Regions from separate parts of the Homo sapiens genome. Here all the other regions are linked to region 1. The links come from fine-mapping of genetic effects on gene expression. A gene starts in region 1. Each other region holds a variant in brackets. All regions are shown on one strand. Distances are from middle to middle. Region 1 holds the start of LYRM2 (LYR motif containing 2). Region 2 overlaps MDN1 (midasin AAA ATPase 1). Region 3 overlaps MDN1 (midasin AAA ATPase 1). Region 4 overlaps MDN1 (midasin AAA ATPase 1). Region 5 overlaps ANKRD6 (ankyrin repeat domain 6). Region 6 overlaps CASP8AP2 (caspase 8 associated protein 2).

Region 1 (4,477 bases):
GCATGGGGTAGAAGTGCTAACTCATACAGCAGCTGTTTCATCTTTTGAGGAACTGACCGTCTGTTTTCTGAAGTGGCTACACCATTTTACATTCCCACCAGCAATGTATGAGGGTTCTGTAATTTCTGTACATCTTCACCAAGACTTATTATTATTTCTCTTTTTAATTACAGCCATTCTAGTGAATGTGAATCTCAGGGTTGTTTTTTTTTTTTTTTTTTAGAGACTGTCTCACTCTGTCACCCAGGCTGAAGTGCAGTGGCACGACCTCAGCTCACTGCAACCTCCACTTCCTGGGTTCAAGTGATTCTCCTGCCTCAGCCTCCCAAGTAGCTGGGACTACAGGCAATGCACCACCACACCAAGCTAATTTTTGTATTTTTAGTAGAGATGAGGTTTCACCATGCTGGCCAGGCTGGTCTTGAACTCCTGACCTCAAGTGATCCACCTACCACAGCCTCCTAAAGTACTGGGATTACAAGCATGAGCCACTACACCCGACCTCATAGTAGTTTTGATTTACACTTCCCTAATGATTGTGTCCAGCATCTACTGGCCATTTGTTAGTGGTTTTTTTCTTCTTTTAAGAACTGCTGAGACATCCATAAACATTTTCAAAATGCAGGGTATGTTTTTCAGTGTTAAGGCAACTGTTCTGATGTGTTTTTCCTTTGCTCTCTATCACCAAATACTGTACATATAAATAGTAAGACTGGGCTTTGTGTTGTCCATTGTTAATCCTAAATGCAACAAAACACATGGAGACTTTGAAAATCCTTCAGAATAATGCTATAGTTAAGATTTTGCTAAAGCAAGTGTTTTTTCTAACTCCTTGAGCTGCATATTGCCTTGAGTAATCATCATCCGGATTGTATCCTGTAGAATAAAGTGAAATCTGGTTATAGTTTTACCTGGTTAAACAAGGTATAGCTATACCATTTTATCTGTTAAAATCAAGAACCAATACTACCTATTGGAACTGCTGCCTTTTAGAAAAGCTAAAAGAGTTCCACATACATACATATAAAATGTACAACATAAAAGTCAAGTGATGATGCTGAAGAGTGTAGATACTCTTTTATCTACATATTTTAAAATACTAAATTTTAAAATAATAATTTAAAATCGGTAACATTACAAGCAATGATCAAGATATACCAGCTCAGTGGCACTATATTCCAAGATGTCTGCTAAACTTAAAAAAAAAAATTCACTGATCAATAAAAAGGGTTAGGATCTGTCCTCACCATGATTTTGTTCTCACCTCTTCGGTGGCACTTTTGTTTCTTCTGAATTCTTCTCTTGCCCAATCTTTCAGGTATTTGCGATCAGAATCATTTGGAACTTGCCGAATTGTTTGCAAAATCCTTCTGTAGAGGAGAAGAACTTGTTGCCTTCTTACGAACTGTAAAAGGGAGGAGTAAATAGCAATTACTACTGCACAATCGCCAGCCTGGAAAGTTCTACTTCAGCAAACCAAGCTGTAACCAGAGTACTTCTCGTTGGTCAATTTTGAAAAAGGCAAAGAAAAACTTTTTTTTTTCTTTTTTTGGCCAGATGCAGTGGCTCAGGCCTGTAATCCCAGCACTTTGGGAGGCCAAGATGGGAGGATCACTTGAGCCCAGGAGGTCTAAGCTGAGGTAAGCCTTCATTGCGCTACTGCACTCAGCCTGGGCGAGAGTGAGGCCCTGTCTCAAAAAGATGTTTTAAAGAAAGCATCACGAGGTTCATCTGATCTTTTTGCTTACTGCTCTGTCAAACCTAAGAACCATTAAAAAATCAGGAGCTGCCTACCGGGCTGAAAAGGGCTGCCGGTCTCCTAGAAGTTGTTATTACAACGACAGCACTTTTTCTAAATTAACAGTTGTTCAAATCTTTGGTAATCTCATTTGCTGTTTGCCACAGCTCAGTGCAATAGACTTTTACCGTGGGCACTGGGCAGCTGAGGCACCGGGACTCAGGGAAATCAAGCGCCTGACGCTGTCTCACGCGATCGCACCAAACCAAGGAAGCAGCCAGTGCCTCCCGTCAGGCCCCGCGGAGCGAAGCACCGCCCCGCAGGCATCGGGCCAATCTCAGAGGGCGCGCACGCCGCATCAGGACCCCGGAACCCGCCCCGTTGGGGATAGGGACAGATGGAGAATCCAGCTCAGACCCAGGTAAGCTGCTTTGGAAGGCAGAGAACCGCCGGTACCTGCTTTAACGTTAGCGTCGCTGGGGGTAAGCGGGAAGCAGCCATGTCCACCAGAGGTCCGCCGGAGCCTCAGCGCGCAGGAGCGGAAGTGGGGTTCGACCAAGGGGTGTGGCGAGCCCGGTTTCCTAGGAGACGGCCCGCGGGTTGCTCTCGGACTGAGAGCGCGAGGCTTCGGGACTGAGCCCTAGCTGCTGCGCTGGCCGAAGTTTTCTCGTCGGTAAAATAGGATAACAGTGCACCATAGGGTCGTTTTGATAAAGAAGAAAGGTAGGGCACTTAACACAGTTCCTGGTAAAGAGAGTTCAAATGAAAGTGAAGGAGGCCGGGCGCGGTGGCTCTCACCTGCAGTCCCAAGCACTCTGGGAGGCCTGTAAGGTGCCTGTAATCCCAGCTCCTCGGGATGCTGAGGCAGGAGAATCGCTTGAACCCGAGAAGTGAAGGTTGCAGTGATCCGAGATCGCACCACTGCACTCCATCCTGGGCGACAGAGCGAGACCCTGTCTCGAAAAAAAAGTTAAGGTTTTTTTGGGGGAAAGAGGTGAAAACGTATTTAAATGTTCTTTCGAGCCTTTAAAAATGTGTATAGTTGAAAATACTAAAATTGAAAGTGTTAATTTCTTTTACAGTTTGTGTTGGTTTTTTCTCTTTCTCGTTTTTGTCCTGTTCTTTTGTAGCGCAAAGGTTTTCCGGGAGCGGTGGCCTTCATGATCATTTGAAACAAAGCTTTGAATGGCTCACCCACTTCAGTCTTAAGCACTTTTCATCACTAATAACGAGGAGCCTAACATCCCTAAGCCTCAGGCTTTTGCTTTTATTTCCTTATAGTTGTTTTATCTTTCCCACAATACACATGCCTTTGGGTTAAATCACTAGAAGTGGAGTTAGCGAATCTTTGCCATATTAATTTTCCAAGTGGTGTTGTATCGAATTAAAATAGAACGAAAAATGTTCAATTACTAGTTTACTGGGGACTTGCTTGCCTCGCCTGTTAGCATCCTGGGGCTCCCTATTCCTAGCTGTGTTCTGGCTATTTCCCCTCTCCTGGCCTATTACCTCCCCTGTAAAGTGAAATATAGCATCTACCTCAGTTGTGTATCTCTAATGTACTGAGAACAGGTCCTGGCACATGTAAGAACTCTAATCATTAGCTCTTTTGAACTTTACCAGGCATTGTATGAATGATGCTAACTGCATGATCATATTATCAATAATATATGCCAAATTTTGTCTAATACATTAGCTGTAATAGTTAATTGCTAACTTTTTAAAAGGAGTGAAGTTAAATACCCCTCGCCATTTTTAGTTATACTGTTTTTGTGAATTGTTCATGACTTGGGTCCGTTTATGATGAGGACATTTATATGGGCTCTATATTTTTTGTCATTTCTTTATACATACAGAAACTTTATACAATCATGTATTTTTGTGCCTTTTGAGGCTTTTCATTTCCCATTCAGGCCTTTGTAATTCGTTTTTTAAAAACTTTAATTTTTAAAATATTTACTCCATCTAGAATTTACTTTGGTTTACAGCATCACGTGGATCTAAGTTCTTTTCTAGATGTTAAGCTGTATCAATACCATTGATTACATAACTCATTCCTTTTTCGGGGCTTTATGATGGATGCCTTTTTGACTGTATGATAAATTCTTTTAGGGTCTGAGTAATCTGTCCAGAATTGTTTCATTTAGGGTTAAGTTTTTACTTTTTGTTTTATATGTTTTTATTATCTGGCAGGACTCTAGTTTCTTGTAAAAAATCCATTAGTACTGTTCTCTATAATCTTTAGAAATGTTTTGTATCATTTCCCTCCAAATCATCTTGTGATCTTGGTTGGAATTTTGAAGTAGTGTTGAATCTATACATTAATATGTGAGAAAGACATTTTTACATTATTTCTTCTTCCCATCAAGAAACACTCAGGCCAGGTGCGGTGGCTCATGCCTATAATCCCAACACTTTGGGATACCGAGGTGGATCACCTGAGGTCAGGAGTTCGAGACCAGCCTGGCCAACATGGTGAAACCTCGTCTCTACTAAAATACAAAAAATTAGCCGGGCCTGGTGGCGCACGCCTGTGGTCCCAGCTACTTGGGAGGCTCAGGCAGGAGAATCGCTTGAACCTGGGAGACGGAGGTTGCAGTGAGCCGAGATTGCGCCATTGCACTCCAGCCTGGGCAACAAGAGCAAAGCTCTATTTAAAAAAAAAAAAAAAAAAAAAAAAGGGCTCACTCTTGCTAGACACTGGTAATGCTGTCGTGAGTCACATATGCTCCTTGCTCA
Region 2 (5,114 bases), 42 kb after region 1:
ACTTCCACAAGATTCCCCAGGTGATTCACATGCACGTTCAAGTTTGAGAAGCACTGCTCTCTATGCTATGCTGCAAGCATATGGTACAGCACGTGGTGACAGAAATTTTAAAAATACAGATTCTGCCAGGCACGGTGGCTCACGCCTGTAATCCCAGCACTTTGGGAGGCTGAGGCGGGTGGATCACGAGGTCAGGAGATTGAGACCATCCTGGCTAACACGGTGAAACCCTGTCTCTAGTAAAAATACAAAAATCAGCCGGGTGTGGTGGCACGCGCCTGTAGTCCCAGCTACTTGGGAGGCTGAGGCAGGAGAATCGCTTGAACCCAGGAGGCAGAGGTTGCAGTGAGCCAAAATCACGCCATTGCACTCCAGCCTGGGCAACAAGAGGCGGAGGTTGCAGTGAGCTGAGATCACACCGCTGCACTAACCAGCCTGGGCAACAGAGCGAGACTCAGTCTCAAAAAAATAAAATTAATTAAATAAATAAATAAAAATATAGATTCCGAGAAACCTCATACAAAGCGGGAAATATTTGGGAATCATGGATGGCTGGTCATAGGATTTTCCTGCATGTGAGTGGAACTCTTAGACATCTGGAAACCTTGCCTGTACCTTCTGTTGTCCACCATCTCAACTGTCTATGGAATTTCCCCCAAAATCAGTCATGTCATTTCTCTCCCTAAAAGTTGGTGACTACATTTCATTGGGTTTCAAGTGAGAACCTTACCAATTTTTGCAAGGTGTTTAAAGAGGTCTGACAAAGCTCGCTGTTTTTGCATGAGAATGTGCTTGGCTTCTGACCGCTGCTTCTCCTTCTCTGCAGAGGGTTCCACCTTTAAGCTCTGCAGCTCACTCACAGAGGAAATCACTTCACCTGTAAGGGAAAACAAGGCGGGGAGGGGAGACAATAAGAAAATCCCAGGGGTCTGGTAATGTGTTTGTTACCCAACACCAGGGACCTTCTGGAGAACAAAGGCCAAGTATCATTCATCTTTATACCCTGGGTACTTAACATAGTCCCTAGCATTTGGTAAAATCTCATTAAGTGTTTTAACCAAACTGGTCAAGGTGCATGGAAATAGAAAAATAACACACAGGATTTCAAATCTCTTGACAATAACAACCCGAACAGCAGCAGTCATTCTTTTGTATTTAGGGGTTTTATAATCAATCAAGCAAATGCACTTACTGAGCACCAACTATGTGCAGTGCATTATACTAGAAATTTATAATCACTTGAAGGAAATTTCAGATTAATATAATATGTATTGAGTTTCCACTTGTAGCTAGTACATCGTAAATTCTCTTTTCATGTGCACAACTTCAGAAGCACCTATTTGTAGCTCCATTTTACAGACTTCAAGAAAGGCTCAGTGAGGTCTAGTCACTATCTGAAGGCCATGTGGTGAACGAGTAGATGAGCCAGGACTTGAACACTGGCCTACCTTACTCCAAAGCCCAAGTTCTTTCTATATAGCACCAAGCTGCCTTCCTGAATACACGTGGGTACCAATAACACAAGGGTGCCGCCTCCCTGTTGCAGGCAGTGTTATAGGCTGGGTTGTGTCTTCCCCCTCAATTCATATGTTAAAGTCCCAACCCCTAGAACTTCAGAATGTGACTGTATCTGGAGACAGGGCCTTTAGAGAGGTAATGAAGGTGAAATGAGAATGGGCTCTAATCTAATCTGACTGAAGTCCTTAAAAGAAGAGATCAGGACACAGAACACACAGATGAAGAGTGACCACGGGAGGACACAGTGAGAAGGTGGCCATCTGCAAGCCAAGGAGAGAGGCTTCAGAAGTAATCAACCTTGCTGACACCTTGATCTTGGACTTTTAGCCTCACACTGAAGCCACCCAGTCTGTGGTACTATATTAAGGCAGCACTACCAGCCAAATATAGGCAGTCACCAGTGAGCACAAGGACACCAAAGACATCAGACAGTGTGGGAGAGTTAGAGGATGAGGGAGGCTTTGCATCCTGCAGCGCATCCCCTCTCCAGGAGATGCAAATGGATCTGTATTCCACTCACCCCCACCCCTAGGCCTGAGTCACCTTGAGCAACGGCTGACAAGTTTTAAAAAGGAAGAGCTCCCTGAGATTAGATGCAACCTCATTAAAGGCAGGCCACCCTCACTGACAGCACACTCACTGCAGTTGGGGGGTAGATGGGGTGAAGGAGGTAGTCAGAGGCTGCCAGGGGCCCAAACATTCTATTAAATTCTGGGTTCCCTTCCCAGCTATTGCTGTGTTACACTATGAGATCTTCGCTCTCACCTTCCCTGAGCAAAGACAGCCTGAGAAATGAAACTGCTGTGCCTCTCTGAAGTGAAGAAAGCAAGAGGATGGGGATGAATCCTCCTCAAGTGAGACAACTTTTTGACAGTGGGGACAGCTTAGACACTGGGAAATCCACCTCTGTGCCCCTTTACTGGTAACACCAACCAACAGGAACTAGTATAGACAAGGCTCTCATAAAAGATGGCACAGTGCCAAGTTACATGAGAGGACGACAATGTGAAAATTATGATTGTGTGTTCTCAGTAGGCTCCTGTTTCTGAGCTCTGTGGGTTTTTAAGCCCACTTGCTTATTCAATCAACTGTTCAACACTACACAAGGTATCAAAAAAGGACACAGTTGCCACATTCTCAGCCCTCCTGCGCCACTGGGGAAAACAGAAAGATCCACCCTTGACTTGGATGCTGGCACCCACCTGTGAACTGATCAAGGCCCTCCACAAGGCGAGGCAGGGGGCTCTCCTTCATGAACGTCAGGCACATCTTCCTCATGCGTTTCCTGAGCTTTGGCAAGCGACGCAGAAGCTCCCCTTCCAAGCCGGAAGGAGCAG[C/A]GCCCTGACACCACTCTGGAATTGTGGCCTGTGAGACAAAAGACAGGTTAGCCTCACTGCCAAGAATGACAGGCAGTGTCCCTGCAAGGGAACTAAATTTAACTGTTGCACACAAAAACACATCCCTAGTTCAGCAAATAGAGAACAAATGTAGCATCACTAAAATTAAAAGAGACATACTGTGGATATTTAGAAAACCATATTACTGCTCCATATGAGATCATTATAACTGAAGGACCCCCATGCCCCTACATCCAGCAATGCTTGCTATGATAGCCACAAGGAGACTCCAGTTCTGAATTATGAACAGAGTAGAATGAATAATATCACTGCTGCCCTTAAGGTGCTGAGCCACATTGTGTTTCTCAGACACAGCAGCCAGGCGAAACTGGTCCTACTCCTGTGACCAGTTACCCCTAATTAACAGTTTAAATTTCAGGAATTCAGATTTCTTTCCTTTTTTTTTTTGAGACAGGGTCTGGCTTTGTCACCCAGGCTGAAGTGCAGTGACCCGATGTTGGCTCACTGCAACCTCCGCCTCCCAGATTCAAGTGATTCTTGTGCCTCAGCCTCCCGAATAGCTGGGATTGCAGGCATGCATCACCATGCCTGGCTATTTTTTGTATTTTTAATAGAGATGGGGTTTTACCACGTTGGCCAGGCTGGTTTCGAACTCCTGGTCTCAAATGATCTGCCTGCCTTGGCCTCCCAAAGTGCTGGGATTACAGGCATGAGCCACCGCACCTCAGACACAGGAATTCAGATGTTATATGAAGGGAAGAGCTTTCGTCCATCAAGGGCATATTTTCATTTTTTTTTCCTTGAGGAATAACCTGAAACTCCTATGTTGTCATTATTAGCAAATCAAAATTGTTGATCAGAATGACAGAAGCAGTGAGCTGACAAATACAGTCAAAAGAAAATAAATTTGGTAGCCATATCATATCTCTGCAGCCATCTTATGGCTGTATGCTCAGTTTCTATTATGAGTTTTGAACCACTAAAATAACAAAAATAGCTTAAGGACTTTCATTACTAACTCTGTGAGCCCCAGGTAGGAAATACAGTAAGAAGACAAAGCTAATTACTCTTTAAAAAGTAATTTTTTTTGGAGAGACAGGGTCTCATACGTTGCATAGGCTGGTCTCAAACTCCTGGGCTCAAGTGATCCTCCTGCCTCAGCCTCCCAAGGTGCTGGGATTACAGCCGTGAGCCACTACGCCTGCCCAGAAATTACTCTCCTGAGGGGTGTCTTCCAATCCTGGAGCTCCCCACACCCAAGGACATGAAGCAGGAACATCCATTCTGTAACAGACCTGCTAACTCAAGATGTATCACTGTTAAATTTTCAGGAATTTTGCAAGCCAAATCTTAACTGTTGGTGCTTGAAATTGGCCATAATAGGAGTATTTACACCACAGTAATCAGCATCTGCTATAAACCAGCACATCACGGCACATATTCACACCCTGTGCAGTAGCTTCCTCATGTGGTAGCCCACAGGCAGCTTCAACGGCATATTCTTAAACTGATGCTTCAAATCTTTGCTCATAGCAGATGAAATGTTCACAGGTAAAAGCACAATTATTTCTCACAGGCTGACATTAAATTTTAAGCAGCAAGGCCAAGTGCGATGACTCATGCCCATAATCCCAGCTCGTTGGGAGGCCGAGGCAGGGAGGATCACTTAAGACTAAAAGTTCGGCCAGGAGCGGTGGCTCCCGCCTGTAATCCGAGCACTTTGGGAGGCTGAGGTGGGCAGATCATGGGGTCAGGAGATCGAGACCATCCTGGCTAACACAGTGAAACCCTGTCTCTACTAAAAATACAAAAAATTAGCCAGGCGTGGTGGTGGGCACCTGCAGTCCCAGCTACTCGGGAGGCTGAGGCAGGAGAATGGCATGAACCCAGGAGGCGGAGCTTGCAGTGAGCCGAGATCGTGCCACTGCACTCCAGCCTGAGCGAGACTCTGTCTTAAAAAAAAAAAAAAAAAAAAAAAAAAAACTAAAAGTTCAAGACCAGCCTGGGCAACAAAGTGAGACCTCATCTCTACAAAAAAAAAAAAAAAAAAAAAAATAGCCAGGCATGGTGGCATGTGCCTGTGGTCCCAGCACTCAGGAGGTTGACGTGGAAGGATCATTTGAGTCCAGGAGGTTGAGACTGCAGTGAGCCATAATCATGCCTGGGCAATAGCACGAGAATCTGTCTCAAAAAAAAGCAAAAAAAAAAACCCCAAGATTTTTTGCCTTATTCTGCAGG
Region 3 (5,114 bases), 100 kb after region 1:
ACACAATCCTGGACGAAGATTATGACTGATGATCTGAATTAAATCTTCACGGCTTGTGCTTTGAGGGCACCATATTTCTGTAAACCGGTTTCTTAAGGCAGGAGACAGCTATAAGAAACACAAAACTTCAATGTGAATTTTTAAAACTGTAAGGAAAGCTGGAAAACAAGTCTTGAAAGAATGTTGTTAGCTGTTAAGTCCAGCAAATACTACACACTTTTAAAAATTATTTCTACTATCAGATATAATTAATTGAAGATGTACTTTGTCTTGACTCCTTATATTCCATGACACCTTCCAGTATCATCATCACTTTCTTAATAGACGTGGTCCAGAGGCCTTACAGACTAAGTGGTGGAAGCAGGATTCCAGCCAGTCCCAGTCAAATCTGAACTCTTCCCCTCAGGCAAAGATTCTTCCTTTTACTTTACCTTTACTTTGCATCAGGTACCTAAATAATACTTCAGAGAAAATAAACACCTGTCTTCCCACAGAGAAGGGCAGTCTGATGTAGGAGGAAGAAACTTCTTTTACATAGCTCAATGAGAGTGTGATTTTAAAAAGTATATATTCTACCTCTTGAATAACAAGAAATTGTTTAGCCACTCCAGTCTTAGGGCCTTTGCCCCTGTAGATTCCTTTTCCCACCACAAGGTCAGTTGACACTATTCACAAATGTTTGCAATGCCACATAAGCATCATTATTGGTTTGTCTGATTACTTTGTAATTACTTTCCTTTTACTTGATGATCATCTATCTGGTCTACCACAGAGGCCCAGGAATAAAGCATACGTGTGTGTACCTCATCAGTATCATAGACAACCAGTACCTCCGGTGTCCAGCATCCTACCTTGCTCTGCTTGTTAGGCATGCGAAACTAAAAAGTAACTTTCCCTTGGGTAAAAGTCAGCAAGCATTGACTTGAGGAAAACAAGATAAGATAATCTGACAGCCAAGCTAATATACACAAACTTGAAATCAGACCTCTCTGTGGCATTTCTACTTGCCCAGAAGCCAGTTTTTATATTTTGAATGCAATGTATTTTATTCCCTCTCTTCAGAGCATATCTTGAAGCATAGAGACAATTTTCATCTTATGATACTGAGGAAACCTAGGCCCAATATATCATTTCAGCTACCCACCAAATTACCAACACTCTTAATTGTCTTATTTAAGATCAACCCCTCTGTTTCTTCTCATCATCCCTGACCTGTTACATCACTCTCTTCCTAACTTTAACAGACTGGGATCCAACACATAGTGCTGACTTCTCCACTGAAAGGTTTCTTGAGCTGGAAACCAACAAGGTTGTTGGTTCCCAAATATATCTGAACACAACCCTCTGAACATAGGAACTACCCTCTGCCCTTTACTTTATCAGCAGTCAGAAAGTGACACACATAACCCTTACGAGAACAAATAAGCTCCATCTACAAACCAGAAGAGGGTTCCTGGTTGTGACTTTTTTGTCACTTTAAAACCACCCATGAAAGCAGAGGTGTGTTTAAGAAAGTGGACTGTAAAAACAGAGGTTAAACTTAAATTTCAGATCCAACTTTTCTCATCCATAAAACTACAATAATAACTTTCTTGCAGAGCTCCTGTGAGCTTTCTCAGGGTAACATATGTAAAGGGCTAGGCAAAGTGACTGTAACAATGACATTTCAGGCACATACACAAAGTGAGATATCAAATAAGGAGATATTTGTGTCAGAATTTTTTTCTAACCCAATAATTATTTTAAAATATTTTTGAGTTTTTACACTTTTTACCCACTTTTTACCTAACATAAAATTCCAAATCCATTATTACATACTATATTTACGAGTACCAGTAAGCTGAGGTCAAAACCTAGAAAGAAAATGTGCATCAGTAAAGTTTTACCTCCTTTTTTCCAAAGTCACCCCCAGGGTTCATGGTTGCTAGAATACGAAATTTTTTCCCAGCAGTCAACAGCTCTATTTCACTATCCTTGTCCTCTGGACTGCCTTTTTCAGCTAATACCAGAGACTTTTCTACTTCAAGGACACTAAAAGAAAAATTGAAGAACAGTGAAAAGGGCTTATACAATCTTTCTGTTTTACAATCTTCAATGCTCTTTAAAAGAAAAAAAAAAGTTATCTTCTTTCTACTGAATTTTTACTTTAGTTAATGGTTTCCTATCACAAATTTTAAAATGACTCACTATCCCAATTTCTGTGTAATAATGGCTATTTCTGATCAAGAAAAAAAAACTTTTCAACTTATAAACTATTAAGGCATTGGTCTTAAAAATGAATAACTTACAAGAAAACAAATAAATTGCATGCATTATCATAATAGCCAACTACTAGAAAGAACTCAAATATCATTGACTGGTGAATGGATAAACAAAATGTGGTATATCCAATACTATTCGGGACAAAAAGGAACAAACTAATAATACGTGCTGAAATAGGAATGAACCTCAAAACATCAATGCAAAGTAAGAGAAGAGAACTTTTATCTGAAATACCCAGAAAAGAAATCTGCAGAGACAAAAAAGAGATTAATCAGAAATTTAGTGTAATGCACACAAAGGATTCTATTGAATGATGGAAATGTTGTAAAACTGGATTGTAGGCCGGGCGCAGTGACTCTCGCCTGTAATCCCAGCACTTTGGAAGGCCAAGGTGGGGAGATCACTTGAGGCCAGGAGTTGGAGACCAACCTGGCCAA[GATGGTGAAACCCC/G]ATCTCTACTAAAAATACAAAAATTAGCAGACTGTGCTGGCTCACGCCTGTAATCCCAGCTACTCGGGAGGCTGAGGCACAAGAATCACTTGAACCCGAGAGGCAGAAGCTGCAGTGAGCTGAGACTGTACCACTAAACTCCAGCCTGGGCAATACAGCAGGATGCTGTCTCAAAACAAAACAAACACAAAAACTAAATTGTGATGGTTGCAAAGCTTGAAACCACCTTTGCAAAAATTATGAGTGAGAAAAAAGTCTAACAAAAAGTTATGACAGTAAAAAAAAACACAAAAACCTGTCCTAACTGACTCCATCTTTCTTCTAGCCTCCAAGCTGCCCTTGTTCATTCCTGGGTATAGGCCAAGTAAACTATGGGAGAAATTTAGTTTACAGTTCAACTTTAAAAGAAAAGTAATAGCGCCCCCCCAAAACTAACCCCTCCTTCATAAAACTAACCAAAAGGTTAAAATTACGGCTCAGGACACAGCCAGAGGTCACGAGATTCATAACCTTCCCAATTGCTCCTATAAGATAACATCTCTATTATAAAACCTAAGATTAGTGTTTAAGGTACTTTTCAGACCCTGATTCTGATAAAACGGCTAGCACCACCTGGAATGGAAACCCATACCAAGAAGTGGCTCAACAGGTCTTATGATCCCATGAACTTATTTAGGGCAAAAAGATAGCTCAACTTCCTGTGATTTCAACCCTGTCCCAACAGCATTCCCCATTCTCTAGGCCTCTGACCCTAGCCTCGGCCGGGCACAGTGGCTCACGCCTGTAATCCCAGCACTTTGGGAGGCAGAGGCAGGAGGATCACTTGAGGTCAGGAGTTCGAGACCAGCCTGGCCAACATGGTGAAACCCCATCTTTACTAAAAATACAAAAATTAGCTGGGAGTGGTGACACATGCCTGTAGTCCCAGCTACACAGGAGGCTGAATGAAAAGAATGGCTTGAACCCAGGAGGCAGAGGTTGCAGTGGGCCAAGATCGCATCGCTGCACTCCAGCCTGGGTGACAGAAGTAGACTCTGTCTCAAAAAACAAACAAAAAAACCCTAGCCTCCAGGACGGGTGCAGTGGCTCACATCTATAATCCTAGCACTTTGGGAGGCCAAGGTGGGCGGATCACCTGAGGTCAGGAGTTCAAGACCAGCCTAGCCAACATGGCAAAACCCCATCTCTACTAAAAATGCAAAAATTAGCTGGGCCTGATGGCACACATGTGTAGCCCAGCTACTCAAGAAGCTGAGGCACAACAATCAAACTTGGAAGGCTGAGGTTGCAGTGAGCTAAAATCACACCACTGCACTCCAGCCTGGGATAAAGAGCAAGACTGTGTCTAAAAAAATAAACAAACAAACCCCTATCTTCCAAATTTTTAGGAAGCTGATTTGAGTAATAAACTCCTGTCCTTCCACTTGGCTAGCTCTGCAACTACTAAATTATTTCTCTACTGCAATACCACTAACTCAGTGACTCAGTTCTATGCATATAGCTTGCAAGAAGAACCCATCATGGGATTATAAACTTACTAAAACTCACTGAAATATACATTTTATGATATGTAAACTATACCTCAAAAGAAAAAATGGGTGTTACTACATCAAGATTCATATTGGTCTGAGGTCTGATGATGGCTTATAGCCATGGGTCTAGGATTCTGACTACAGTTCTTTCAAAATATTAAGAGAGTAGGGATATAATTCACTTTAAAAAATAGTTTTGACTTTGGCTCATGTTTTAGCCCTACCATTCCACGATCCCATTGTTCTGATTATTGATAGCAAAAAAAACCTAGAAATTTAGGAAACACTGAATGCTAAAGCCAAAAGACATGGTAATACATCAATAATTTCAAGCATTTACTAAGGTGCACCTATGAGAAGTATTACTGTGCACAAGATTAAATATCTATAAAAATCACATCAATCACCTGAGCCCAGAAGTTTGAGGCTACAGTGAACTATGATCATGACACGGCACTGCAGCCTGGGGTGACAGAGTGAGAACACTGTCTCAGGGAGAAAAAAAAAAATCACACCAACAAAAATATCAAACACAAGGCAAACCTCTCAGGCACGTACCTGTTGAGTCTTTCCAAGACAGAGTCATCGGCCAATGAGATCTCATCCAAGAGGAAAAAGCCGTCCTCCTTCATGGCCTGAACCAGAGGCCCATCATGCCACTCAAAGAGTCTTGATGTGTCAATTTCTTCCTATAATTTGAAAAAGTGGGGAAAATTAAAGGGCAGGTGGCTCCACAGACAATATACATGCAGCTGGCTGGTGTTTCCAGGGGTGAAGTAGGCATTCTGAGGAAAGTAAGAATCTGAGAACAGGAGATAGAACTTGCACACCAGAATGCTTGTGAAGGCCCTTGTAGACCAGAGAAAATCT
Region 4 (5,114 bases), 31 kb after region 1:
GATTTGAGAAATACAGAAGGCCAAAATAACAAAGCAATTATCTAAGGACAATATAGGTCCAAAAAAAAAAAATTAGAGCTCCATAACATAAATACTAGCATTATTCTTTTGGCTTTTAATTGCTTTCCAGTTTTCTCTGCCAAGGAAGGGAGGGAATTTGAATTGGTTTTCTCCTTTATTTTTAATAACTATAAAATTACCTTAAATACAAGTTTCTGATCTGATTTAACTTAGAATATAAGTGATACACCCAATACACATAAATCACTCACAAATGAGACAGGCATTTAAAAAATCCAAGCAATGTAACAATCTTAGTTCACAGCATCTGAATAGTTCAGAAGGTTGCTTGATTCCAACCAAAAAAGGATACAGATTTTTTAAAACACTCTATGCCTTAAAGATATACAACAGTAAAACCTATTAACAGCAAATTTTGGCATTATTGTTTAATGCAATTATCACTTAAGATAGCCAGGCCTTTTATGCTTAAAAATACTATCAAAAATACTCTAGAAAATCATCAGTAAATATCTGCCCATTTAAAAAAAAAAAGTAAAAATCATTTCCTCCATAATTATAGCCAAAACCAATGATGGAGTTGCCAGGTTCCTTCCTGTGGATTTTAGGCTTTTTATTTACACCCACTGCCGAAGCACCAATATATCTAGGGCTCTGTAGATCACAGATTAAAAATTATTAACCTAGTAAAAACCATTTTTATGTGTAACTTACATGTTGAAAAGAAAGAGAGTGATCTTCTGTCAACTGTATACCTATGTGAAAACGTACCTGTTCTTCATTTCCGATCTGGTCACTCACATCCTTCATGCCCTCGCCTTCTCCAATTCCACCTCCCTCATAGTCATGGAACTCAGTTGCTCCCTCTCCAGCTGAATCTTCCATAAATTCTTTGGGCAAGCAAAATCCCTTAGAAAAAAGAAAAAGGAAGTGAACAATTAGGCACAAAAGCAATTTTAAAAGGAGATTTCATTCTTGCCACAGGAAAACAATTTAAACACATACTGAATTCTTTTTCTAGCTCATTATCTTAAATCCGCTGGAAGTACAGGAGACTTCTGACATTCTTCTCCTCTTTGGTGCTAATAGTTATGCAGTTTCACAGCTTGACATCAGATTTAACATATGACTTGACTTTGTAGAAGCCTCTGGCATGTGGTCATTTGTCACTTTGCCAAGACAAAAACCTAAATGAAGTATACTAGAAGGACAGTATTTTGGAAAAAGTCCTTGAGTAAGGGCAGAACAGGCTCTGGAGAGAACACAGTCAGACATAGTAATAACTGTGAAATGTTGAAAAAAACTATTTTATACAGGAAAATAACCTGAGAAGAATACTAGCCTGCTGAGCAGAAGTAAAAAGAAAAAGTAGTAGTGACTCTCAATCAGAAAGTTTAATTTTGTAAGAGAAAATATATACTATGAAGATATATCTGAGGATGGGAATGCACAAAAAAATAAGCTGCTAATTAGCAAGGAATTAAGATCCCAAACCAGTAAACACTAATTATGACTTGGTTACACAGAAACAGCTTCCTGCGGATCAAGAGCTTTAATTACAGCCTAGATCTATTATCTTAGCACTGTCTAACCTACTCTCAAGTTCCCTTGAACTACTCAGAAAAGATATGAATACAATTTGGACACTTAGAAAAATTTTTAACAAGCCAAACCCACTTTTAGGACATATATTCTCAGAATGTTGATAGGAAAATACAGTTTGGCTTACTTGCTTAATTTTCCCATTGAACTACATTATTTAAATGAGAGACATTCAGAAATAGACAAAGAATACGACCACATAGGAGGGAGTTTCAGATGCCCTTACCAGAGTATATCATTGCAGCTGCTACGTCTGGGATAGCCACAGGGCTCCCAACATTCTGCACATATCAGAACCATTCCTACCCGCAACAGACAAAGGTTTGAAAGGCCAAAGTCATTCTACAGCCTGTCAGACAAAAGCTACGGTACAAATGGACAAATCCAGCTGAGCCAAATCTCAAGGCACCCGAACCACACATTTTCCTGCCACTATCTTTAGTATACAGTGTTTTCTCCAAGAAGCAATGGAATGTTAAGGCTGGCCTGGTGCCCACCAGAGGCGGAGAAACCTGAGACTCATTCTTTTACTTATTATTACTTTTTATTATTATTATTATTACTGTTACTTATCATTACTACAGATAAACATATTTATCCTCTTGATACAAGGCATTAGGCTTGGCTTCCACTTTTTACCTCTTTCCAGTATTTCAGAGACTCGGAACTAAGAACTCTTAATTGTTTATAAGAAATCTAGACCCCATCTTCAGTTTGTAAATTCATATCTTCCTCAAGTACATCTCATCTGTATTAAGCTTGGAGAAAATCTTAGA[A/G]TGCTAAGAACAAAAACAAAACTTATATACTCAAATGCAGGTGGTTCTCACAAAAATGCATATTAGTATAGGCAGATCTCATTTTACAAATGAGGAAACTGAGGCTTGGTGAGGTTAAGAGAGACCGAGAGCTGGATATCTCTATGACTAGACCTACCCACACCATGTTGCTGTTAGATTTCACTGTCTACTGCCCCTGAGTTTCAAGGGGAGGGTCTACAATCTCTACAACCTCAGTGCTTTTCACAATACCGGGTACATGGCTGAATGAACAAATGACTTCCCTGCTAAAGAAAAAAACTGGCTGGGCGCAGTGGCTTACACATGTAATCCCAGCACTTTGGGAGGCCGAGGTGGACAGATCACAAGGTCAGGAGATCGAGACCGTCCTGGCCAATGTGGTGAAACCCTGTCTCTACTAAAAATACAAAAATTAGCCAGGCGTGGTGGCACGTGCCTGTAATCACGTGGAGATTACAATTACAATTACAATTTTGGAGACTCTGTCTCCAAAAAAACATATATATATATATATATATATATATATATATTTTTTTTTTTTTTTTTTTTGAGATGCAGTTTTGCTCTTGTTGCCCAGGCTGGAGTGCAATGGCATGATTTTGGCTCACTGCAACCTCCGCCTCCCCGGGTTCAAACAATTCTCCTGTCTCAGCCTCTTGAGTAGCTGGGATTACAGGCACATGCCACCACGCCCAGCTAATTTTTGTATTTTTAGTAGAGATGGGGTTTCATCATAATATTGGTCAGGCTGGTCTCAAATTCCTGACCTCAGGTGATCCACCCGCCTCAGCCTCCCAAACTGCTGGGATTACAGGCGTGAGCCACCACAACAGGCGAAAAACACTCTAATAATAACAGGCCCATTATCATTTAATCATAATTACACCAACATGGTTAAAAGAAAACTTAATAGCCTTAAGGGTTTATCCTACAACTCTAGTTCAAGAGTTATCTGAAGATTTACATTGGGGATGGGAAGGGAAGGGTGTTAACAGACGGCAGCAGCTTTTAGACAGCGCTGGAGTTTAGGGAACTCGTCAGTTTGGGGGAAAGGGTGGGTTGGGGATAGGAGGTATCATCTGCAGGTTCTGAGACTTTAGTGGAAACAGCGTTAGCAAAAGGATGCCAGACAAAGCCCTAAATAATCCACAGGGAGAGCAAATCACATCCTGCTATTTGTGGTGGTCCAAAATAAAAGCCTATCACACCAAAGACTAATGACATGAAATTTACTTGGGTCCCTGCTGCTCACAGTGCACCATGTGAACAGTCCTTACCTTCTGGGCAAGCTCTGTAAAGACCTGGGCAAGCACAGAGAGCAGCTTTGCAGTACTACGGTGAGTTGCTAAAGACATGGTCAGGAAGAAGAGGACGAGGTCTGAGTAGCTGGAGAGGACCGGCACCAGGCGCACCAGCAAGGAACAGGATTGGCTGAAGAACTGAGACCAAAACAAAACAAAAGGCCTGCTCACACTGCTTGGCAGGTACCAGGTTTCCATTCTGGAACTAGATAGTGGTGGTAATTGCACAACATTGTGAATGTACTAAATAGTACTAATGGCAAGTTACATGTATGTGTTTGTAACCTCCACCCACCCCAATACACACAGCTCACTGAGATTTCTTCATTTACATATATCGTCACAAAAGTACAATCTCAAACCGATGTCTCCTTTGGCTAACAATGTTGGTTTTTTAAAAATAGAATGTTGGCCAGGCACAGTGGCTCACGCCTTTAATCCCAGCACTTTGGGAGGCCAAAGTGGGTAGACTGCTTGAGCCCAGGAGTTCAAGTTCATGTTGCCTGGGCAACATGGCAAAACCCCATTTCTACAAAAAATACCAAACAAAAAAAACATATAGCCAGAACCCATCTTTACAAAACTTTAAAAATTAGCTGGGCATGGTGGTGCATGCCTATACTGCCAGCTATCTGGGAGGCTGAGGTGTGAGGATCACCTGAGCCCAGGAGGTCAAGGCTACAGTGAGCCATGGTCATGCCACCACACTCTCCAGCCTCGACAACAGAATGAGACCGTGTCCCAAAATAAAATAAGAAAAATAAAATGTTTATAAATAAATTCTGCTGATTCAAAGTTAGCACCGGAGGCAATGCTACAGAATAACATACAATGTCCTGCAAAGTAAGTTGCTTCTCTGGACTTACTGTAAAGACTACAACTGCTTACTCTGTTCGCTTATTGTAGTGGGAATGGTGGTTACACAGGATGGCTGCTAAGCCTCAGTTGATAACATCGTCTATCAGTAACATCAGATACTTGGGAGTATGTGAATAAGATATGAAAGAATCCTAATATAATGGATATTCTGAATGGTTAGCATTTCTGCACCTATGCATCTAACAATTAGCTAGCAAGCCCTAAGCTCTTCAAAGCTTGTCAATGACTTTGCACGTATAAATAAAGAGACCAAGTTCTTAGTGATTTTGGCACTGAGGCCTGCTCTGGCACTTATCTACGTGGAGGGAAGTAAAGCCCACTCTGCCTTTGCTCAGTGCATTCTGAAGAGGAAGAAGTTTGTAAAGAACAGTTAGTTACCAGGTGCTTTGCTGCTGTGCCATCCTCACCGTACGATTTCAGCCTCTCCAACAGCTCGGAGATGGCAGAAATTATTTTCTGCACGTGCAAAGTGCTCACATCGGCCCAGAAGTCATCCTCTAAGAGTTTTGTTAGA
Region 5 (5,114 bases), 27 kb before region 1:
ACCACGTTTTTTTGTTTGTTTGTTTGTTTTGAGACAGAGTCTCACTCTGTTGCCAGGCTGGAGCGCGATCTCGGCTTGCTGAAACCTCTGCCTCCCGGGTTCAAGCTATTACGCTGCCTCAGCCTCCTGAGTAGCTGAGACTACAGGCACACACCACCATGCCCAGCTAATTTTTGTATTTTTAGTAGAGACGAGGTTTCACCATGTTGGCTGGGATGGTCTTGATCTCTTGATCTTGTGATCCACCCACCTCGGCCTCCCAAGGTGATGGATTACAGGCGTGAACCACTGCACCCAGCCCAGAAATTGTTTCTGTGTAAATAAAATGGCTTCAGAAGGACAGGTCAGGAAACTCATGCGTCTCAAAGGGAGGGACATTTTGTACCAGCCATAGCCCGTAGAAAGATCCTTCTTATTCAGCAGATGTAGCAGCTCCTGTCTGGGAAATCAGTACCCACTACTCAGGGTGGGGAAAAACGCCTGCTACATATATATCTACCCTAGGTCACATTTTCTAATGTCAGGTTTTGAGATATAGGTATGAAGTCACGCTGTTCTGTGAGTTTTGACAAATGTATACGGTTGTGTAACCCCCACCATAAGATATAGAATGTTTCCATTGCCCCTTAATGTTCCTTTGCGCCCTCTGGTGGCAGGCCCCCAGTCACCCTCTCCCAGCCCCGGGCAACCACGGATCTGTTTTGCTTGTTCATAAAGGTCATGTAAATGGAATCATACAGTATGCGGCCTTCTGTGTGTGGCTTCTTAAACTTAGCATAATGTTTTTGAGATTCCTCCGTGTCGTTACATGGAGGAATGGTTCACGCCTCTTTATTGCTGAGGAGTATTCCATTGTGTGGATCTACCACAATTTGTTTATCCAAACCTATGGTTTTTAATTTTCTTGGTGCAAATGCTTTTCCACATCATCGATATTTCCTTATTGGCAATATAAGCTTTGGTATGATCTATTTCTAGAGGCATCAGATTTCTTTCATTTCACTCATGTATTCAACACGTATTTAGTGGTTGCCATGAAGCCCATAACTTGCAGACAACTTGAGAGTAGTGTTTTTAAAACCTGGGCAGACCCCTTGTTGCTGAGAACTAAACTAGCAGTGGTTCTCCACCTGGCTGCACATTAGACCCTCCTGGGGAACTATAAACAAACGAAAAAGGAAAAAAAACAAAACTTAAAAAAAAAAAAAACCTGAAGACCAGGCCTGGGGTGATGGACTGTCCCAGTTTGCCCTGGGCTAAAGGGTTTCCCGGAATGTGGGACTTTCAGTACTAAAATAGGGATGCTGGATACCCATCCCCAAGGCCACATAAATCAGAGTCCCTAGAACGGTTGTGGCTGTGCACAGGGCTGGTTTGAAAGCTTCCCCAGGTGATTCTAATGTGCACCCAAGGGTTGAGAACCAGCGAGCCTGCTAGAACCTCAGGCCTGTAATCCTCCCTGTGCCTGGAGGTAAAAGTGAGACAAAAGGTCCACCAGGGCTGGTTGGAGCTAAGGTGAAGAGAAGGGGGATAAGCAAACTGGCCGCATCCAGTATTCCTCTATTTTTTTTTTTTTTAACTCATTTCTCTTTTTAAAAGATCAGGAATCTGATATACTGGAGTATCGGCAGCCAGGACTGTGAGATCCAGAAGGGTGTGAACTAGGTGAGGGAGAAGCAATGAACAGGCAGTGTAATGCTCTGAGCCCACGCACCTGCAAGCCTGACCCAGCACTTGAGCTCAGCAGAACCAACGCGGAGCTTCTGTGTTTAACCTCCTGAGTGCTTGCAGGCTCTTGGATGACACAATGTCACCTATCACACGGCCTTGCTTTCTTGTTACTTTTCTAGGGGTTATCAGCGGCCTCACATGCCCTACTCCCATAGACTCAAAAGTTCTGTTCATGTCCTGCAATTTTTTCCTGCAGTATTGCTATGGACCTTATTCTGACCCTTGGTTGTCATTGTGATGTGGTTTGTTGAGGTTCTCAAAAACAAGAAGGACCCAAAAAGCAAGAGGGTCTCAATCTGTGTCCTAAGTGATAGATGCAACTGTACTGCCTGAAAGGCAGGGCCTGGTGTCCATAGTTAAAATTTTGATGTTTCAAGAAAAATACAAGAATGGGTGACTTGAAAAAGGCTAACAAGTTAAATCTCAGTTGCATTAGCCTGCCCTTCCAGGAAGTGGCTAGTTTTACTTTTTTTAGCCCACCATTGGCAGGGATTGTAACCACAGCTATTGCCCATGTGGGGCAGGAAGTCATCTGATAGGAATTGAGTACTGTGCATGTGTCCAGCATTGTGTGTTAAGAAAACACCTTCCTAGACACTCTGAGTCAATCCCCATAGTTTTAGGATGTGGGGGTCATGCTCCATTTCCCAGGTAAGGAATTTGAGCATTTGAAAAGGCTGGCTTTTAGTTAGTAAGTTGCAGAGCCAGGACTTGGAACCAAGGTTTTATGACAAATAGGACTCTTCTGCCTGTTCAGACTCCAAATTAAATGTTCTTACCTCTGAAGCATCCCCACTGAAACCATCGGGCAAGAGGCAGAGAATGTGAGCGTTGCCTTTTCCCCCGAGTAAGTACTGCCCCTCTGCAAGGCATGCAAGTCTGTGCGGAAGCATGTT[G/A]CTAATATGTCCTCCCTCTCTCTGCCTCTCTCCAAGGCGGGGAACACAGCTCTGCACCTGGCCTGCCAGAACAGCCACTCCCAGAGCACGCGCGTCCTCCTGCTGGCCGGGTCCCGCGCTGACCTCAAAAATAATGTGGGTGAACAAAACCAGATTCTCACGTTCTCTCTTTCTTGTGTCACTTCAGAAAATAACTTCATGAGCATACTTGAACCTTAACATCTAGAAATTAAAATGTAAAAAGTATTTGGGGACTATCTCTAAAGTGTTCTTTTTTTGGCAATTTTCTAAGGGATCATTCAGGCATGTGAGAAGAAGAATCAAAAGACTTGGAAATACTGCTTTTCTCCCATCATTTTCCCTTCATGCCTCATCTTTGGTTTATCATTTCTTACAGTACGTGTCTGGCCAATTACAGACTAGGAAACCAGTTAATGTTTTAAGAAAGTCTCTACCCACATAGAGTGTTGAGTGTTGTACTATTATCAGCAAATATGAGCTGGTGCCATTTACAGGGGAGGTCCTCTAATGCCCCATGCCCAGCATCTATAGCGAGCAGGTCCTACTGATGACTGAGGCGTCCTTGGGATGAGCTGACCGGAAAGGTCACATGGGTATCGCTTCTTCACAAAGAAGCTGTATTTCCTTTATAAATCCCCTGCCTTAGCCACGTTGGCTAAATAAATAAATAAATCTGAGGCTTCTTTCTAAAGTGTCCTCAGGTGAGGGTCTCCCTGTTTGGGGTAGACTCATCTAATGCTCTGAACCTCAGCTTTGAGCTTGGTTCCGTCTTAATGCAGGGGAGAAAAGTATGCCAAGTGGCCAGTGTTCTCCAGACAGAGCTAGGATGGAAATGGCAAGAAAACACTGCAGGCAGCTTTTTGTCTCCAGTTCTTTATTGTCTTTGTGGGAACAGGGTTCTGCCTGTTGTGCTTACTGAGCATCCTGCCCCTGAGTTTTTCTTCATACCCTTTTTTTGCTCCCAGTGATTGCTTCCTTATGAGCTCCCCTACTACATAGCTCCATATAGGATATTGGGGTCCAACTGAAGTGGGATACTCCTTGAACTTCAGGGGGTACGTGTAATCTTAAGATTTGACAACCCCCCTGCTGCCCTGTCCTTTCATCCATGAGGGATCTATGCTGGGAAGGGCTCATTTCCAAAGCAATGCTGTTGGTCTTAAGTCAGTATACTACTGACCTTTTGGGTTGTAGGGAGGCTAGGGTCCCTGGATCCTCCTCAAGCACAGGTAAGCAGAGCCTGCCTTAGCTCTTGGAAAGGTCTCATGGGGAGCAGACGTCTAGTTTCATAAACGTGGAAGCAGTGATTCTGTGACCACGTGGTTGTTCTGCACAGGCAGAAAGGGAGCAGGGCTGCCCACAGCAGCAAAGAATGGCGAGCCTTGGGGTGGAGCATCTATGTTAAAAGAGCTGCTTATGATTCCCTAAAGAGTACATGATAGTCTGCTAGCTTTTAAATAACATTTTCTTTCTACTTTTCTCTATTTGTTTTGTAACTGCTCAGATTGTGCTTAGAGTTTGATTTTTGTCCGCAGGCAGGAGACACCTGTTTGCACGTTGCTGCGCGCTATAATCACTTGTCCATCATTAGGCTCCTCCTCACTGCTTTCTGTTCTGTCCATGAAAAGAACCAGGTCAGTGCATGTATTCTCTTCATGGCTGCCAGCACCCTTCCCACAAGGCTACCGGACAGGTCTGTTAGTGCAAACGGGAGCAGAGGCTGCTGGGAAGCTGCCATGTCACCTACCTGGGACTCAGCCAGCAGTGGGCTTTGCATGGGTGTCACACTGAGTTCTAGTGGCCCTGGCTTATCTGGCCTGCTAGAGAAAGTGTGCCCTTATAATTCCTGTGCATATCACCACATTTGCATATTGAACATTTTCTGGAGATCCTGGGGCAGGCTTTGTTTTTTAAATGTGATTTTAAAAAGAAAACCCACGAGGAAGAATGTGATTTAGTAAAGAAGCAAGGGAGGCCGGGTGCAGTGGCTCACATCCCAGTACTTTGGGAAGCCAAGGCAGGAGGATCACTTGAGGCTAGGAGTTCAAGACCAGCCCGGGCAACATAGCGAGACCCTGTCTCTACAAAAAATTTTTTTAAAAATTTGGCCGGCCGTGGTGGCTCATGCCTGTAATTCCAGCACTTTGGGAGACTAAGGTGGGTGGATCACTTCGAGTTCAGGAGTTCAAGACCGGCCTGGCCAACATGGTGAAACCCTGTCTCTACCAAAAATACAAAAATTAGCCAGGCGTGGTGGCGTGCACCTGCAATCTCAGCTACTCAGGAAGCTGAGGCAGGAGAATTGCCTGAACCCAGGAGGCAGAGGTTGCAGTGAACCGAGATCATGCTACTGTACTACAACCTGGGCAACAGAGCAAGACTACATCTCAAAATAAATAAATAATAAGTTAATTAAATTTAAAAATTGGGCAGAGTGGCATGTGCCTGTAGTTCCAGCTACTCAGG
Region 6 (5,114 bases), 220 kb after region 1:
TTCCCCACCTGTATAAGGGGGATAAATAGTACTCCTCATAGGGCTTATAAATGTATGATGCCTGCATGTAGTTAACATTCAATAATTATCAGCTAATGTATGTAGTAGTATTAGTAACCCTATAGGTATGTACTTTATTAATATAGTTTGTGGTGTTTTAGAATTTCAGCTTAATAAACGAAAACCAGTCTCTTAAGAAGAATATTTCAGCACTTATCAAAACTGCCAGAGTGGAAATAAACCGCAAGGATGAAGAAATAAGTAATCTTCACCAAAGGTATTACTGAGCGGTGTAGCTGTTATAAATTACGTGGGTATTGATATGTGGAATATTTTTAACTTTTAGAGGAAAGATGAAAATAATGTATTTTTATTTTTTATTTTTTAATTTTTTTTTTTTTTTAGAGACAGGGTCTCATTTTGTCACCCAGGCTGGAATGCAGTGGTGTAATTATAACTCAATGCAGCCTCCACCTCCTGGGCTCAAGAGATCCTCCTTCCTCAGCCTTCCAAGTAGCTGAGATAACAGGTGCACAACACCATGTCTGCCTAATTTTTTTATTTTTTATTTTTGGTGGAGACAGGGTCTCACTATGTAGCCCACACTGGTCTTGAACTCAAGGCCTCAAGTGATCCTCCTGCCTCTGCCTCCTGAAGTGTTGGGATTATAAGGGTGAGCCACCATGCTTGGCCCATATGTGATTATTAATAGAACATTGTGGCCAGGCGCAGTGGCTCGTACCTGTAATCCCAGCACTTTGGGAGGCTGAAGGGGACAGATCACTTGAGCTCAAGAGTTCGAAACCAGCCTGGCCAACAGGGTGAAACCCTGTCTCTACTAAAAATACAAAAATTTGGCTGGGCATGGTGGCTCATGCCTGTAATCCTAGCACTTTGGGAGGCCGAGGCGGGCAGATCACCTGAGGTCAGGAGTTCGAGACCAGCCTGACCAACATGGTGAAACCCCATCTCTACTAAAAAAAAAAAAAAAAAAATACAAAATTAGCTGGACATGGTGGCGCATACCCAGCATCACAGCCACTCGGGAGGCTGAGGCAGGAGAATCTCTTGAACCCAGGAGGCAGAGGTTGCCGAGATTGTGCCATTGCACTCCAGCCTGGGCAACAAGAGTGAAACTCCATCTCAAAAAAAAAAAAAATATTAGCCAGGCATGGTGGTGGGTGCCTGTGGTGGGTGCCTGTAATTCCACCTACTTGGGAGGCTGAGGCAGGAGAATTGCTTGAACCTGGGATGACGCAGAGGTTGCAGTGAGCTGAGATCATACCACTGCATTCCATCCTTGGTGACAGCAAGACTCCATCTCAAAAAAAAAAAAAAAAGGAAGCAAATAAAAATAGAACATTGCCACATATTTATCTGAATATATTTAGTTTCCTAAAACACTGAGTTCTTGCTCTAATACTGTTTGCCCTGATGAGATGATGGTATATATGTCATGGGTTCTTCTAGGTCCCCACTAAATTACTAAAATATCAAGAGGGCATCTGTGCTCATATACCCTATTAATAAACAGCCCTTATACTATCTCTCAATTGTATATTCTTTTCTTTCTCAAGGGGATTTTCTCCATTAATTTCTCTCTTTTATTGGTTGGAGGCAATATTTTGCTCCAGAGAGGTTCATATTTTCATAGCCTAACCTCTGAAAAAGTTGTCTAAACTTGTAAACTTGTTTTCATTTTCTTTCTTTCTGCTAACTCACTTTTTATTTTTTTTAAGATGGAGTCTCACTCTGTCGCCAGGCTGGAGTGCAGTGGCGCGATCTTGGCTCACTGCAACCTCCCCCTCCTGGGTTTAAGCAATTCTCCTGCCTCAGCCTCCTGAGTAGCTGGGACTACAGGCACGCGCCACCATGCCTGGCTAATTTTTGTATTTTTAGTAGAGATGGGGTTTCACCATGTTGGCCAGGGTGGTCTTGATCTCTTGACCTCATGATCCGCCTGCCTCAAGCCTCCCAAAGTGCTGGGATTACAGGCGTGAGCCACTGTGCCCGGCCATTTTTTTTTTTTTTTTTTTTTTTGACAGAGCCTCACTCTGTCGCCCAGGCTGGAGTGCAATGGTGCAATCTCACCTCACCGCAACCTTCGCCTCCCAGGTTCAAGCGATTCTGCCTCCTGAGTAGCTGGGATTACAGGCGCTCGCCACCACACCCGGCTAGTTAAAAAAAAATTTTTTTATTTTTTGAGATGGAGTCTCGCTCTGTTGCCCAGGCTGGAGTGCAGTGGCGTGATCTTGGCTCACTCCAACCTCCGCCTCCTAGGTTCAAGCGTTCTCCTGCCTCAGCCTCCCGAGTAGCTGGGATTACAGGCACCCGCCACCACGCTGGCTAATTTTTGTATTTTTAGTAGAGACGGGGTTTCACCATGTTGGTCAGGCTGGTCTCGAACTGCTGACCTCAGGTGACCCACCTACCTCGGCCTCCCAATGTGCTGGGATCACAGGCATGAGCCACCGCACTCAGCCTACACCCAGCTAATATTTTTGTATTTTTAGTAGACACGGGGTTTCACCATGTTGGTCAGGCTGGTCTTGAACTCCTGACCTCAGGTGAGCCACCCACCTTGGCCTCCCAAAGTGCTGGGATTTCAGGCGTGAGCCACTGTGCCCAGA[C/CT]TTTTTTTTTTTTTTGGCAGAGTCTTGCTCTGTTGCCCAGGCTGGAGTGCAGTGGTGTGATCTCAGCTCATTGCAACCTTTGCCTGCTGGGTTCAAGCGATCCTCCCACCTCAGTCTCCCGAGTAGCTGGGATTACAGGCATGCACCACCTGTAAAAAAAAATTTAAAAAAAAAAAAAGATTTTTTTGTATTTTTAGTAGACGGGGTTTCACCATTTTGGCCAGGCTGGTCTCAAACTCCTGATCTCAAGTGATCTGCCCGCCTGGCCCTCCAAAGTACTGGGATTACAGGTATGAGCCACTGCACCCAGCTTCAAGGGTGTTCCTTTTGTGGTTAGTGCTTTTCGTGTTTACATTTCCCCAATGATCTCAAAGGTATCTACCAACAGTTGGTCGGTTGAGTCAGTATCTATATTAGTTTCCTAGGCTTAGTGTAACAAAACTACCAGAAATGGGTGGCCTAAACAACCAAAATTTGTCTCACAGTCCTGGAGGCTAGAAGTCCAAAATGAAAGTGTCAGCAAAGTTAGTTTCTTTTGAGAGCTCTGAAGGAAGGATCTGATTCAGGCCTCTGTACTCTTAGATGGTTGTCTACTTCCTATGTCTCTTTATATCCTCTTTCTAAATGTATCTCTGTGTCCAAATTTCCCCCTTTTTATAAGAACACCAGTAATATTGCATGCCCACCTTGAGGACATCACTTTAACTTGATTATTTCTGTAAAGACCCTTTAAATAAGGTCATATTCTGAAGAACAATGGGTTAGAACTTCAAATTATGAATTTGGTCAGGAGAGGGGACACAATCCATAACAGGGTTCATATGAGGCTTACATATTGTTTTAGGTTGTGTGTTTTTCTAATCCTCTCTTATAACAATCTGCCTATATTTCTGAGTTTTTTAAGTTTTGGGTTTTTCTACACATTTGCTACTGATTAGAAAAAGATATATGAAATTTCAGAGAAATTATGGAATTTCTGGAAGATGAAGTTATTACCAGAAGCCAATATAGGCCAGGCACAGTGGCTCACGCCTGTAACCCCAGTACTTTGGGAGGCGAAGGCAGGAGAATTGCTTGAGTCCAGGAGTTTGAGACCAGCCTGCGCAGCATAGTGAGATCCCATCTCTACGAAAAATTAAAAATTAGCTGGGCATGGTGGCTTGTACCTGTAGTCCCAGCTACTTGGAAGGTTGAAGTGAGAGGATTGCTTGAGCCTAGGACATCAAGGCTGCAGTGAGCCATGATCATTCCGCTGTACTCAGCCTGGGTGAAAGAGGGAGACCCTGTCTCAAAAAAAAAAAAAAAAAAAAAAAAAGCTAAATTGAGCTATCTACATTTTATTGCTAGGAAACCTACCAGTTTTTTTAAACACTAATATAAAACCTTAAGACTTAGATTTTTGTTTGTTTTAAACAGTAAATATATACCATTCTCCTAGGAAAGAATTACAACTCTTTATTCCTTTTTACTTTGCGTAGTATATAACATCTTAAGATGGCCTTTGGTGCTTTGGCTTGCTGTGGGATTGTATGTGAAACAGAAAACTAGGATAGAGAATTATGTAGAGTTTTACTTTGTTCATGTCTGTTGTTTAGCAAGATTTTACTTTTCCTTGTGTTTCAGTTGAGCTAGAATGAATAAGGCAAGAAAATAATGTCACTTGTTCTAAAAGAAGTGAACTTGTGGTTAGCTGGGGAGTTATGCACTGTAGTGAAGTAAGTCTAAGAGCCATTGGCAAGTATTGGGATAGATCCTCAGGTCCTCAAAACTTATTTGAGCAAGGCACATGAAAGAGAATTTCATGTTTTAAAAACAGGCTAATTTAGTTGGAAGCTGGTAATTTCTTTTTCTTCTTTTTTTTAGGGACAGGGTCTCACTTCGTTCTGTCACCCAGGCTGGAGTGCAATAGCGCAATCATGGCTCATTGCAGCCTCAACCTCCTGGTCTTAAGTGATCCTCCCACCTCAGCCTTCCGAGTAGCTAGGACCACAGGCATGTACCACTATGCCTGGCTAATTAAAACAAAAAATTTTTTTAGAGACAGGATGTCACCATGTTGCCCAGGCTGATCATGAACTCCTGGGCTCAAACAAATGATCCTCCCGCCTTGTCCTCCTCAAGTGCTGATATTAGAGGCATGAGCCACCACATCTGGCCAAAGCTGGTAATTTCTTTCTCAACCAGGAGGTTGAGGCTGAGACAGAGTCTTGCCCTGTCACCCAGGCTGGAATACAGTGGCGCAGTCTCGGCTCACTGCAACCTCCACCTCCCAGGTTCAAGCAATTCTCCTGCTTCAGCTCCCAAGTAGCTGGGATTACAGGTGCCTGCCACCACGCTTGGCTAATTTTTTTGTATTTTTGGTAGAGACGGGGTTTCGCCATGTTGGCCAGGCTGGTCTCAAACTCCTGACCTCAAGTGATCTACCTGCCTCGGCCTCTCAAAGTGCTGGGATTATAGGCATGAGCTACCATGCCTGGCCAAAGC

The links. PIP is the estimated chance that this variant, and not a neighbour inherited with it, causes the effect. A credible set is the group of variants that fine-mapping cannot tell apart.
Region 2: its variant is the best candidate, but not a certain one, in a credible set for the expression of LYRM2 in gastroesophageal junction (GTEx, PIP 0.88).
Region 3: its variant is the best candidate, but not a certain one, in a credible set for the expression of LYRM2 in esophagus mucosa (GTEx, PIP 0.54).
Region 4: its variant is the best candidate, but not a certain one, in a credible set for the expression of LYRM2 in subcutaneous fat (GTEx, PIP 0.68).
Region 5: its variant is the best candidate, but not a certain one, in a credible set for the expression of LYRM2 in unexposed skin (GTEx, PIP 0.57).
Region 6: its variant is the best candidate, but not a certain one, in a credible set for the expression of LYRM2 in whole blood (INTERVAL, PIP 0.66).

The regions. Positions count from the first base shown.
Region 1 is chr6:89,636,478-89,640,954 of GRCh38, forward strand. It overlaps LYRM2 (LYR motif containing 2), which reads right to left and starts at 2,270. Exons shown (of 3, transcript NM_020466.5): 1 at 2,195-2,270; 2 at 1,265-1,405; 3 at 1-876. The coding sequence starts at 2,239. The coding sequence ends at 796. It overlaps MDN1-AS1 (MDN1 antisense RNA 1), which reads left to right and starts at 2,055. Exons shown (of 4, transcript NR_111915.1): 1 at 2,055-2,159. RefSeq lists enhancers at 1,018-2,217, 1,570-1,799, 2,020-2,069.
Region 2 is chr6:89,677,869-89,682,982 of GRCh38, forward strand. It overlaps MDN1 (midasin AAA ATPase 1), which reads right to left. Exons shown (of 102, transcript NM_014611.3): 74 at 2,721-2,883; 75 at 731-877. All of the region lies in intron 2 of MDN1-AS1 (MDN1 antisense RNA 1), which reads left to right. Among named protein-coding and RNA genes, the nearest start is that of LYRM2, 42 kb to the left of the region's middle. The variant C/A (reference allele first, on the strand shown) is at 2,856.
Region 3 is chr6:89,738,348-89,743,461 of GRCh38, forward strand. It overlaps MDN1 (midasin AAA ATPase 1), which reads right to left. Exons shown (of 102, transcript NM_014611.3): 31 at 4,803-4,933; 32 at 1,887-2,031; 33 at 1-108. Among named protein-coding and RNA genes, the nearest start is that of MDN1, 79 kb to the right of the region's middle. The variant GATGGTGAAACCCC/G (reference allele first, on the strand shown) is at 2,700.
Region 4 is chr6:89,667,222-89,672,335 of GRCh38, forward strand. MDN1 (midasin AAA ATPase 1) reads right to left here. Exons shown (of 102, transcript NM_014611.3): 82 at 4,979-5,114; 83 at 3,698-3,859; 84 at 793-930. All of the region lies in intron 1 of MDN1-AS1 (MDN1 antisense RNA 1), which reads left to right. Among named protein-coding and RNA genes, the nearest start is that of LYRM2, 31 kb to the left of the region's middle. RefSeq lists a silencer at 989-1,283. The variant A/G (reference allele first, on the strand shown) is at 2,400.
Region 5 is chr6:89,609,609-89,614,722 of GRCh38, forward strand. It overlaps ANKRD6 (ankyrin repeat domain 6), which reads left to right. Exons shown (of 16, transcript NM_001242809.2): 6 at 2,664-2,762; 7 at 4,184-4,282. All of the region lies in intron 1 of LOC124901359 (a long non-coding RNA gene), which reads right to left. Among named protein-coding and RNA genes, the nearest start is that of MDN1-AS1, 26 kb to the right of the region's middle. The variant G/A (reference allele first, on the strand shown) is at 2,628.
Region 6 is chr6:89,856,923-89,862,036 of GRCh38, forward strand. It overlaps CASP8AP2 (caspase 8 associated protein 2), which reads left to right. Exons shown (of 10, transcript NM_012115.4): 6 at 162-277. Among named protein-coding and RNA genes, the nearest start is that of CASP8AP2, 30 kb to the left of the region's middle. The variant C/CT (reference allele first, on the strand shown) is at 2,631.